Homo sapiens: one gene and its partners. The protein of the gene in region 3 interacts with the protein of the main gene of each other region in a pairwise test. Each region holds a gene or a part of one and is shown on either strand. Other genes may lie near its edges. The genes, in order: TFAP2D, GNE and SSC4D.

Evidence for each region.
Region 1: the proteins of SSC4D (region 3) and TFAP2D interact in a two-hybrid assay, tested with the Homo sapiens proteins (one large-scale study listed by BioGRID).
Region 2: the proteins of SSC4D (region 3) and GNE interact in a two-hybrid assay, tested with the Homo sapiens proteins (one large-scale study listed by BioGRID).

The regions. Positions count from the first base shown.
Region 1 is NC_000006.12:50,748,008-50,751,664, reverse strand, and holds part of TFAP2D (transcription factor AP-2-delta), read right to left. Parts: intron 455-3,657; coding exon 341-454; intron 1-340.
Region 2 is NC_000009.12:36,213,805-36,217,215, reverse strand, and holds the end of GNE (bifunctional UDP-N-acetylglucosamine 2-epimerase/N-acetylmannosamine kinase), read left to right. Parts: 3' UTR 1-2,775; downstream 2,776-3,411. UniProt on the Homo sapiens protein: Bifunctional enzyme that possesses both UDP-N-acetylglucosamine 2-epimerase and N-acetylmannosamine kinase activities, and serves as the initiator of the biosynthetic pathway leading to the production of N-acetylneuraminic acid (NeuAc), a critical precursor in the synthesis of sialic acids.
Region 3 is NC_000007.14:76,392,607-76,396,263, reverse strand, and holds part of SSC4D (scavenger receptor cysteine-rich domain-containing group B protein precursor), read left to right. Parts: intron 1-933; coding exon 934-1,011; intron 1,012-2,359; coding exon 2,360-2,434; intron 2,435-2,547; coding exon 2,548-2,859; intron 2,860-3,657.

The DNA of each region.
Region 1 (3,657 bases), on a different chromosome or scaffold from region 3:
GGATTAGTGCCCTTATAAAAGAGCCCAGGGGATCTTGTTTGGCCCTTTCATCATGTGGGAGAAAATGGAGACGGTGCCATCTCTGAAGCAAAGAGCAAGCCTTTGTCTAATTAACTCTGCCGGCACCTTAATCTCAGACTTCCCAGGCCTCCAAACTGTAAAAAATATATTTCTGTTGTTTATAAATTACCCAGTCTAAGGTATTTTGTTATAGCCCATCTGAAAGGACTAGGACAGTCACCATATAAACATATAAGTGGTATCTCTAAATAGAACTGTGATAGGAATACAAGCATCTGGGTTAGTAAAGAATTTGAGCAAACTGGAAAACCAGTCTTACCTGAAATGTGTTAAATGTCTCTGGATGTCAAGGTCTAGAATTGGAGTGGGTCTGGAGGATCCCAGTGGTGATCTATCTTGGCTCAAGAGGTCTTGGAATTCTTTACAGATTTGTCTAAAATAAAAGAATCAAATTTAAAATTGAAATTTTCAAATTGAGCTTTAATTTCATCCCATGATATTTAACCAAAGGCTTGTTCTCTCTTTTAAAAGAAGTCTAGATAACATTTCATAAAGCAACCTCAAAAGTTCCATTCATAGCATACAGTTGAGTTTCATAATGGTGACTTTGCTCTCAACGGCTATAGGATAATCATACAACATTTCAAACAAATAACAATCCATGAGCACTGATAAGACCAATGTTTATTTTTAAGATGACTATTCATAAATTAACCTCAGGATAAGGGGAACCCCATATGAAATGATCACTATGATCTTTTTAATTGAAATGTGATTTTTTAAGACATAATATCTGTAAACAAATTTAATTAAAGTTACAGTCTTACTTCAGAGCCATTATTCAAACAGACTTTGGAAAATCCTTTTTTCCCAATATTGCATTAGAGTTCATATTCTTATGAGCTAACTTTATATGCTAATATTTGAAGCAGATAATCACCAGTAATTTAGTTCACTAGCCTCACAAAAAATGGTTATATTATGTTCCATGTAAGCCAATTTCTTGCAAAAATTACCCTCAAGGTAACTTTTCTGCTGCATTTCTTTGCTTTAAATGGTTATGGTTTTTGGTCATTGGTTTCAGTTTAATTACAGTGTTACAATGTAACAGTAAAGACTTTGTGATGTACACTCCAAATGATATAATTCTAAAGAAGCAGAATACACTATACAAAGAGATATTGTTTTTGTTTTTGTATTTTAACAACAAAACACTAAATTAGTCCAGTCTCTGAAAAGTAAAGGATTGCCAAAGAATTGCTTAAAAACATCCATCATCTAAAGTGAGGTGACTCCATAAATCAAGGGATAATATGACAGTAATTAGGTTTTTTGTCTGTTTTTACAATGGGCAGTCGCAAAAATGTAATAATGTAGCCCTGACTTTGATTATCAATGTAAACAAAGACAGGTATAGAAGTGTCAAATTATTTCAAGTGAATATGAACCCGGCCATTATTCTGCTGCAAGGCATTTGTGTCATCAACAAATGACTACCAAAAAGTGACAAAATATCTTGAAGTACAAATAATTGATCACTGAGTTAAAAATCAGTGGGGACTTCTTAATCAGGTATCTAAAATTTATTGAATTCCATCAAAGATCACTTATGATATTTTAAATGAACAATGAGGGTCTGGTTTAATGCCAGTGTTCAAATATTGTGTCATTTCACAGAAATTGCCTTATTCATGTTTGCAGAACACAGGTGAAAGTAAAAAGGAGTCAGAGATAGGAAAAACAAAGTCCTTATCTGCTTCAGTGAAATAAGATACTTCACATCCCCTTCCTAAAGGGCCAGTTGGATCTCTGAGATACAGCATCTGAATACATGCTTTTAACAACTGTGTGTTTCTACTTTCATTCAGACAGTTTCTTCTGAACTCCTCACATTTTCTGTTGTGAGACTCAGTTGCTTTATGAAATATACCTGTTTTCAGGTGTATTGCCCATATTTTAATCAATGAATGCAACTTAATCTAAGTGTTTGGTGCCATTTTGAGGAGTATATCATAATCTTTTGTGCTTTGTGTTATTTAATATAGATTTGTTGTCTTTGTTTATGGAAATTTCTAACTAAAATTTTAAATTTAGCCTCATGCTATCATTTCCAAATTACTGTATGGTAGGTCATCATTACGATCCATTCTTACAAAGAAAGATTGGTGTTGTTTTTAGACTTTTGTTTTTAGCAGTCTTTTAGTTTTTCTATCAGATTAAAATAAATTTTAAAACATTAAAATAAAGATTGAAACATTAGTTATTGTGGCATAATATCAGAATTAATTGGATAATGGAATAAACTTTTAAGTTGACAAATCAACTTTGTTCCTGTATGAATAATACAGCAAGTTATAATAAAATTGACGAAGAAATTAGAGAAAGCTAAAGAGGTGGAAAAATTTAACTCATGCTAAATAATTCACACAGGAGGATCTACCAGGAGTAATATTATATTATATTATATCTCCCCCTTTTATATTTAATTCTACAGCTTAACTCACTCACTTTCAAGCTTAGACTTGAAAACAGATGACAATCCTGTAGATTCCCTGTAGGCAATTATCATCATCATCTCATTATGGCACTTACAGAATTATGATTTTATGACTACTTTCCTTCTTATTTAATTTTTTATTTATAAATCTACAAAAAGAAACAATCTTACATCTCAAGGCAAAATGTCATATTATGAATTATGTAACACAAGATGATCTTCAGTGAATCATACATTCTAACTTTATCACTTACATCATTGTCCTTAAGGACGTAAGTTTTTAGCTGATGTCTGAAATCCAAATTCTATGTTTCACCCTTAGATGATTAACAGTATGGTAACACTAAAAGTTGTTAACTATTCTGCTTTACCTTAATGCAGATCAAATGTTAGACATATTTAGTTCTAAATTCAATCAAAAGGTTTAAATATGTTTTCTATTAACCAAATAAACACGTTTTGTCTGATTCATTTTTAGAATTCAAAAAATGTTTCAGTTTCTATTCTTTCGCCTAAATAAATGTCTAAATTACACAAAATATTTAATCAACAAAACACTGGAAATAAGGTGGCATGAGAAGACTAATGACACTTAATTAATAGGCCCTTTATACAATTGTATACTTGGCAATATACTTAAAGACAACTGAATCTGTAATCCATGGAGGTAAAAAAGAAATATGTAGGCCAATCTGACAATGTAGATTAGCAATTGGATCTCTCATTCAATAAATTTTAGATTTCATATATATTTTTTATAATGTTGTCCAAGTCTTATGAATAAAGGTGAACTGACCAGGATGTAATGAATATCCATATAGGCTACTTAATATTAACTTTTACCATTTTAATTGATGAAAATACCTCATGCTTTACCATTGGTGTAAAATTAGAAACTTCTCAGAACACATGTTGGGTCCATTCATATGTTGCACAAAAAGGGTATTATTTCCACACATTCCCTAGTTTATCTAGTTATAGTGATTACTGGTTATATTACGTATGTTTGCTATGACTGGAGTCTCTGATTTTTATTTCACATAGTCCAATAAGAAGATAGGATGCATATAAGTAACAAAAATAAAAAATTATAAAGCTGTATTATAATTTTCAGGTGTTTATTCCTATTTACTCTTCTG
Region 2 (3,411 bases), on a different chromosome or scaffold from region 3:
TCCAGAGTCACCTTTCCCCACTCCTATTTTTGTAGATGCTATTCTTTCTGATGTCTTCTTACTAGGGGTCATTTTAGCTCAAACCCTGTAAGTTACAGTCACAATTTTCTGTGCCAAAGCAGCTACAATAATAGAGAGGAAGCCTTCTTAGAACTCTGCTTACTAATGTATTAATACCACTGAGACCTTCAGGCCTTGCCTGGGATATCACTTCATCCTGAAGTTTGCATTAATAATCCTTCCAGGCCGGGCACAGTGGCTCACGCCTGTAATCCCAGCACTTTGGGAGGCCGAGGCGGGCGGATCACGAGGTCAGGAGATCGAGACCGCCCTGGCTAACATGGTGAAACATGGTGAAACCCCGTCTCTACTAAAAATACAAAAAATTAGCTGGGTGTGGTGGCGGGTCCCAGCTACTCGGGAGGCTGAGGCAGGAGAATGGCATGAACCAGGGAGGCGGAGCTGGCAGTGAACTGAGACCGCACCACTGCACTCCAGCCTGGGTGACAGAGCAAGACTCCATCTCAAAAATAATAATAATAAATAATAATAATAATAATAATAATAATAATAATCCTTCCAGCTGGGCGCAGTGGCTCACGCCTGTAATCCCAACATTTTGGGAGGCCGAGATGGGCGGATCACCTGAGGTCAGGAGTTCAAGACCAGCCTGGCCAACATGGTGAAACCCCATCTCTACTAAAATACAAAAATTAGCCGGGCGTGGTGGCATGTGCCTGTAGTCCCAGCTACTCGGGAGGCTGAGGCAGGAGAATTGCTTGAACCCGGGAGGCGGAGGTTGCAGTGAGCCGAGATCATGCCACTGCACTCCACCCTGGGTGACAGAGCGAGACTCCGTCTACACACACACACACACACACACACACATCCTTCCTCCTCTAACCCCAAACTAAGATCACAGAAGGTGATCCAGTCAGAGAACAGAGGGAAATCTTACCAGGAAGGGCTTAAGTACACTTTTTTTTAAAACAGCTTTATTGTTTTTAAAGCCTACAATTTGATAAGCCTTGACATATGTATACCTGTGAAAGCATCACCACAATCAAGACACTGGACATATCTATCACTCCCCCATCTCAGATATCCCCCCTAATCCTGGATACCATTTGTTGAAAGATGTTATTACTCTAGCTGAACTTACAAGAGACTTTAGACCAGGGATCTAAATTACAGTGGCCTTAGTGACCTTGTCCTTATCTTCTTAGGACAGCTGAGAAGCCACTGGGACTTAGAGCCTTTAAAAGGAGATTAACTGTCCCAAAAGGATCTTTGCTACTGACCAGCAGACACTTCTTCCTTCAGTAGCCTTTCATACTGTGTTGAGTAACACCCTAGGGTGTCCATTAAAGTTTTGAGTTTTACCTAGAGCCCAGAGCCATGAATCAGGATTCTGTCTACATGATTCGTGTTTTCATTGGTGTCAAAATACAAAAGCCAAAGTTCTGGCTATGAATTGTTAACTTGGAAGAAATACTAACTGCCACCACTTATTAAGTGCCTACTGTGTGCCAGGCTCTGAACTAGGTGCTTCATATACATTATCCTAAATTATCTCAACATATGAGGTAGGTGTTTTAATTTTTATTTTATAGAACTTGGTGTGTTTGACTGTTAAGCTATGGGGCTAGAGAGAGGGTTTGATCCCAGGTCCCTCTGTGCTTTTGCTGCTGAGCCACACAACCTCTCATTTCAAAAACACTTTCAAAATGCTAACATATTCTAATTCACTCTAGGCCACCAAAAACTTTAATACTAATATCTGATTTGTAAATGACTTAATGTATCCTTGACCCTATCAGCTGAATTTAATGAAATATTCCTCTCTGCTGTGAAATTTTACCAGTATAGTATTTGGTCTAGTGACAGGTGTTCTATTTTTTTGAGACGGGTCTCACTCTGTCACCCAGGCTGGAGTGCAGTGGCTCAATGCAACCTCTGCCCCCCAAGTTCAAGTGATTCTCCTGCCTCAGCCTCTTGAGTAGCTGGGATTACAGGCACATGCACCACGCCCGGCTGATTTTTTTTTGTATTTTTAGTAGACAGGGTTTCACCATGTTGGCCAGGCTGGTCTTGAACTCCTGACCTCAGGTGATCCGCCCGCCTCTGCCTCCCAAAGTGCTGGGATTACAGGTGTAAGCCATCACACCTGGCCCTAGTGACAGGTTTTTATGGGTACTTTTAGATGATCTAAGAAATCATGTGCATATATCTTTCAGATTTCTATTTTGGGAAAATGAAGGTTTCTACAACATATTGTTTCAGTGTTCAAATAAACTGAAGGACTCAACATTACATTTGAACTATATCCTTCCTAGTGGGTTAGTGTGAAAAAGAGTTTGGCTGATTCCTAAAACTCTGCCAGCCCTGCAGTAATCTCCAGGGCCTGGTTATTGTTCAGACATTCCATGGTGATTCCTGGGAAGGAAGCTTGGCTGCTCAGTTTCTGAGTCTGGGGTGAGATAATGTTCTGGGAAGGGACATCTGTTCTTTGGTGTAATCTCTCATGGTGAAATCTGCTCTGTACATCAGACAATTGCATTGCTACCAAGTTTCATACCAAATATTTGAAAGGATGGTATTGAATCTAAAACCAAATATTAGTTTTTATTAAACTCATGGGAAGGCTAATATATTCCAACGTAAATTATTACATATGGTTAAGTAATTGCATGTTAATTTATTTTAATGTAAATATTTTTGTTACTGTTCTGAGCCAAATTCTAAAGAAAAAATAAATACATTTCCTTGTTGAAATCCTGTTGTATTTTGTTTTGTTCGTAACTCATTAGCCAAAAGCATTTTCCTTCCCAGAAGAGATTTAATTGTTGCACTGCTTACGTTTTGAAGGTTATATAACTTCCTTAAGGCCTCTAATATCATTGCTTTCTTAACCAAAAAAAGTCTATTAATAGAAAGCATGGCTGGGCATGGTGCCTCATGCCTGTAATCCCAGCACTTTGGGAGGCTGAGGCAGAAAGATTGCTTGAACCCTAGAGTTCGAGACCAGCCTGGGCAACATGCCAAAACCCCATCTCTACAAAACAATACAAAAAAAATTAGCCAGGCATGGTGCAGTCTCAGCTACTCAGGAGGCTGAGGTGGGAGGATCACCTGAGCCCGGGAAGTGGAGGCTGCAGTAAGTTAGTTATGATCATGCCATTGCACTCTAGCCTGGGCGACACAGTGAGACCCTGTCTCAAAAACAACAAAAACAAAACATTGCTATATATAACATTGAAAATTTGGCATAAAAAAGCAAAGTAGCCCCCAAGAAAGAGGTTTGAAACTAAGTGTTAAGCATTTACTGAGTCCCTAGACCCACTCCCTCTTTTTATGAGGCCCTATGTGGGTCTCATACAGGCATTAGAAACAATCCCAAATTACTATTGC
Region 3 (3,657 bases):
TGGAGAGGCACTCCCACCCCATCCCTGTTTTAGCTAGTCCTCAATTTGGCCCGGTATCTGAGCTCCACCTCCTGAGTCGAGTGAGTCCTCCCTCCTGCCCCATTCCCCACTCAAGAGATTAGTTGTTTTTTTGTTTTTTGTTTTTTCACTTTAAGAGGGGCTGTAGGAGGGCAGAAGTCTGTCTCAGTGAGCCCTGACAGAGCCCCTGCTAACCCTGGGCATGGCCCTTGCCCTGCTAGCCCTGTTTTCTCTGTAAGAGGGGGATAATGGGCTGGGCGCGGTGGCTCACGCCTATAATCCCAGCACTTTGGGAGGCCGAGATGGGCGGATCGCCTGAGGTCGGGTGTTTGAGACCAGCCTAGCCAGCATGGTGAAACCCCATCTCTACTAAAAAAAATACAAAAATTAGCCAGGCGTGCTGGCAGGCGCCTGTAATCCCAGCTACTCAGGAAGCTGAGGCAGGGGAATCGCTTGAACCTGGGAGGCGGAGGTTGCAGTGAGCGGAGATCGCACCATTGCACTCCAGCCTGGGTAACAAGAGCGAAACTCCATCTCAAAAAAAAGAAAAGAGGAGGATAATGAGAACTCAGGCCTGTGTATGGTCCTCCCTGATGGGCAAGGCCTTCTGTACTCCATGTCTGTTGGACACAGAGGACTTCTGATGAGAACATGGGACATTAGAGAGAAATGAAAGCGTGTCTGTTGACAGCCCTGTATAAACTGAAGTGTACACCTCACAGCACAAGTGAATTACAACCACTATCAAAGTGGGGACAGGCCTCCTTGGAACCCCGCTGCGGCTGGGCCACCAGCCCTGGAAGTAACATCTATTCTCTCCTCCAGGCAGACCCTCCTATCCTCCCCTGACAGCCCATGGCTGACCAGAGACCAGAATCTCAGCCTCTGACCCTGCCCCCTTCTCTCCTGCCCTAGGCCTGGGTCCCCCAACGCTCACAGCACTGCCATCCTCAGCCACAAGAGAGGACTGGGCTTGGCAGACAGATCCGTCCGGTAAAGAGCTCAGCCCTCCAGGCGGGAATGGTAGGGGTATGGTGGGTGCGGCTGGGAACTGGGAAGAATGTTCTGGATTCACAGGCGGGGGCCCTGGCTAACAGGCCAGGGCTTTGGCCAGATGGTGCAGAGGTGGGTGAGACAATTATGAGCAGACGGAGCAAGGATGATGAAACTCAGAGCTCTGAAAACTTCAGCGGGGTGGGAGGAGGCAGTAAGAGATTTCTTCAAAGCACAGAAGTAAAATTTGGGATGTGGGCGGTGGCTCACTCCTATAATCCCAGCACTTTGGGAAACAGGCAGGAGGATCTGTTGAGGTCAGTTAAAGACCATCCTGGGCAACGTAGCTAGACCCTGTCTCTAAATATAAATAAATAAATAAATATCTTATATATATTATATATATCTTATATATAATATATATCATATATATTATACACATATTTTATATATTTATATATATCATATATATTATACATATTTTATATATATATATATATATATTATACATACATATATTTAAATTGCCAGGCATAGTGGCTCATGCCTGTAATCCCAGCACTTTGGGAGGCTGAGGCAGGTGGATCACTTGATGTTGGGAGTTCAAGACCAGCCTGGCCAACATGGTGAAATCCCATCCCTACTAAAAATACAAAAATTAAAAATAAATAAATAAAAATACAAAAATTAGCCGGGCGCCTGTAATCCCAGCTACTTGGAAGGCTGAGGCAGGAGAATTGCTTAAGCCTGGCAGGCAGAGGTTGCAAAGAGCTGAGATTGCGCCACTGCACCACAGTCTGGGCGAGACAGAGCGAAACTCTGTATCAAAAAAAAAAAAAAAAAATTAGCTGGGCATGGTGGGTCGCACCAGTCCTAGCACTTTGGAATACCGAGGCAGGAGGATCACTTGAGGCCAGGAGTTCTAGGCTGCAGTGAGCTATGATCGCACCACTGCACTCCAGCCTGGGCGACAGAGCAAGACCCTGTCTCGAAATTAAAAAAACTTTTTTTTCAATGGGATGATGCTGAGATTGGGAATTGAGAGACCTTATGAGGGGGTCGATTGAGATGAAGGTTGAGTCAAGGTTAGCAGTGCAATTGGAATTAGGATAGGAACTATCCCTGGGCCTGAAGTTAGGATAATACCTAGAATTAGCTTTCGGTTCATTCAACCAAGTTTCCCGGAGATCCCAACCCGCGCCAGACAACGTGGTGACTCTGGGGTTGCAGCTGAGTGGGGGTACGGGTGTGGTAGGGTTGGGGGTCTTGGTAGGCGTCCCCGTGCCCTGCTGCAGGACAGAAGGCCTCCTCGTCCCCTTCGAACGCCCTAGATGCCCTGTCTCCACAGCTACAGGAGTTGGCCCCCAGCCTTCCCGGGAGACAGCACTGCTCACCACCGCCGCCTGGGCCGCGGGGAAGAAAAGTAAGTGGCGGTGCCTGGGTCTGCGGGGGATGGGGAAGGGTAGGGCTGGGGCTCTGCCGGGAGCCGGCAGCCCCAGCCCAGCCCCTCTGGCCGCGGGCCTGTGCGCCCCGCAGGTGGACGGCTGCGACTGGTGGGCGGCCCGGGTCCGTGCCGCGGCCGCGTGGAGGTGTTGCACGCCGGGGGCTGGGGCACCGTGTGCGACGATGACTGGGACTTTGCGGACGCGCGCGTGGCCTGCCGCGAAGCGGGCTGCGGGCCTGCGCTGGGCGCTACGGGACTGGGCCACTTCGGCTACGGCCGCGGCCCCGTGCTGCTGGACAACGTGGGCTGCGCCGGCACCGAGGCTCGCCTGAGCGACTGCTTCCACCTGGGCTGGGGCCAGCACAACTGCGGCCACCACGAGGACGCGGGAGCGCTCTGCGCAGGTGAGGCTGACAGCGAAGGTGAGGCTGACAGCGGGGCCGCGCACTGCGGCGTGGGAGGGGCGGGGCGGCGCCACGCGCGAGGCCTCTCTTGCGGCACTGCCGCCCGGGGAGCATGCGCACTCCGCAGAGGGGCGCCGCCCCGCCGTGCGCCCGCTCTGCGGCTGCGCGGCGGGGCGAGGCCGGAACGGAGAGCCTTCTGCAGTGGAAAATGGGGCGGGGCCTGGTGAGCGCCGCGTGGTGCAGCTGTGAGGGGCGGTGTCCGAAGGTCAGGGCTAAGGCCGATCCCAGTTCGAGAAAGGCATCAAGTCCGTAAAGGGTGGGGCCGTTTGCTCCCGGCTAAATCTAGACCCCGCAAAACTCTATTAAGCAGAGAGTGGATCACCCTTACCAGAGCTAGCGTGTGACCTTTGGGCGGAGTCAGTGGAAAGGGGTGTTTGCAGTTTGGCAGAACATTGTGAAATTCATTGATTGCTGTGGGAATTGATATCTTCACCCTCATTTGGTGCCCCAGGGCTAGTAGGCCCTACTTCCCATAGTTTTGGCCACAGAGGGTTCTGTTTTGGGGCCAAGGTTTGGAGAGGCACAACACCTATTTCTTTTTTTTTTTCTTTTGAGACAGAGTCTTGCTCTGTCACTCAGACTGGGCTGCAGTGGCACGATCATAGTTCACTGCAGCCTTAAACTCCTGGGCTCAAGCTATCCTACTCCGCTCAACCTCCAGAGTAGCTGGGACCACAAGGGGCATGCCACCGTGCCTGGCTAATTTTTGAATTTTTTTTAGAGATGAGGTCTCACTGT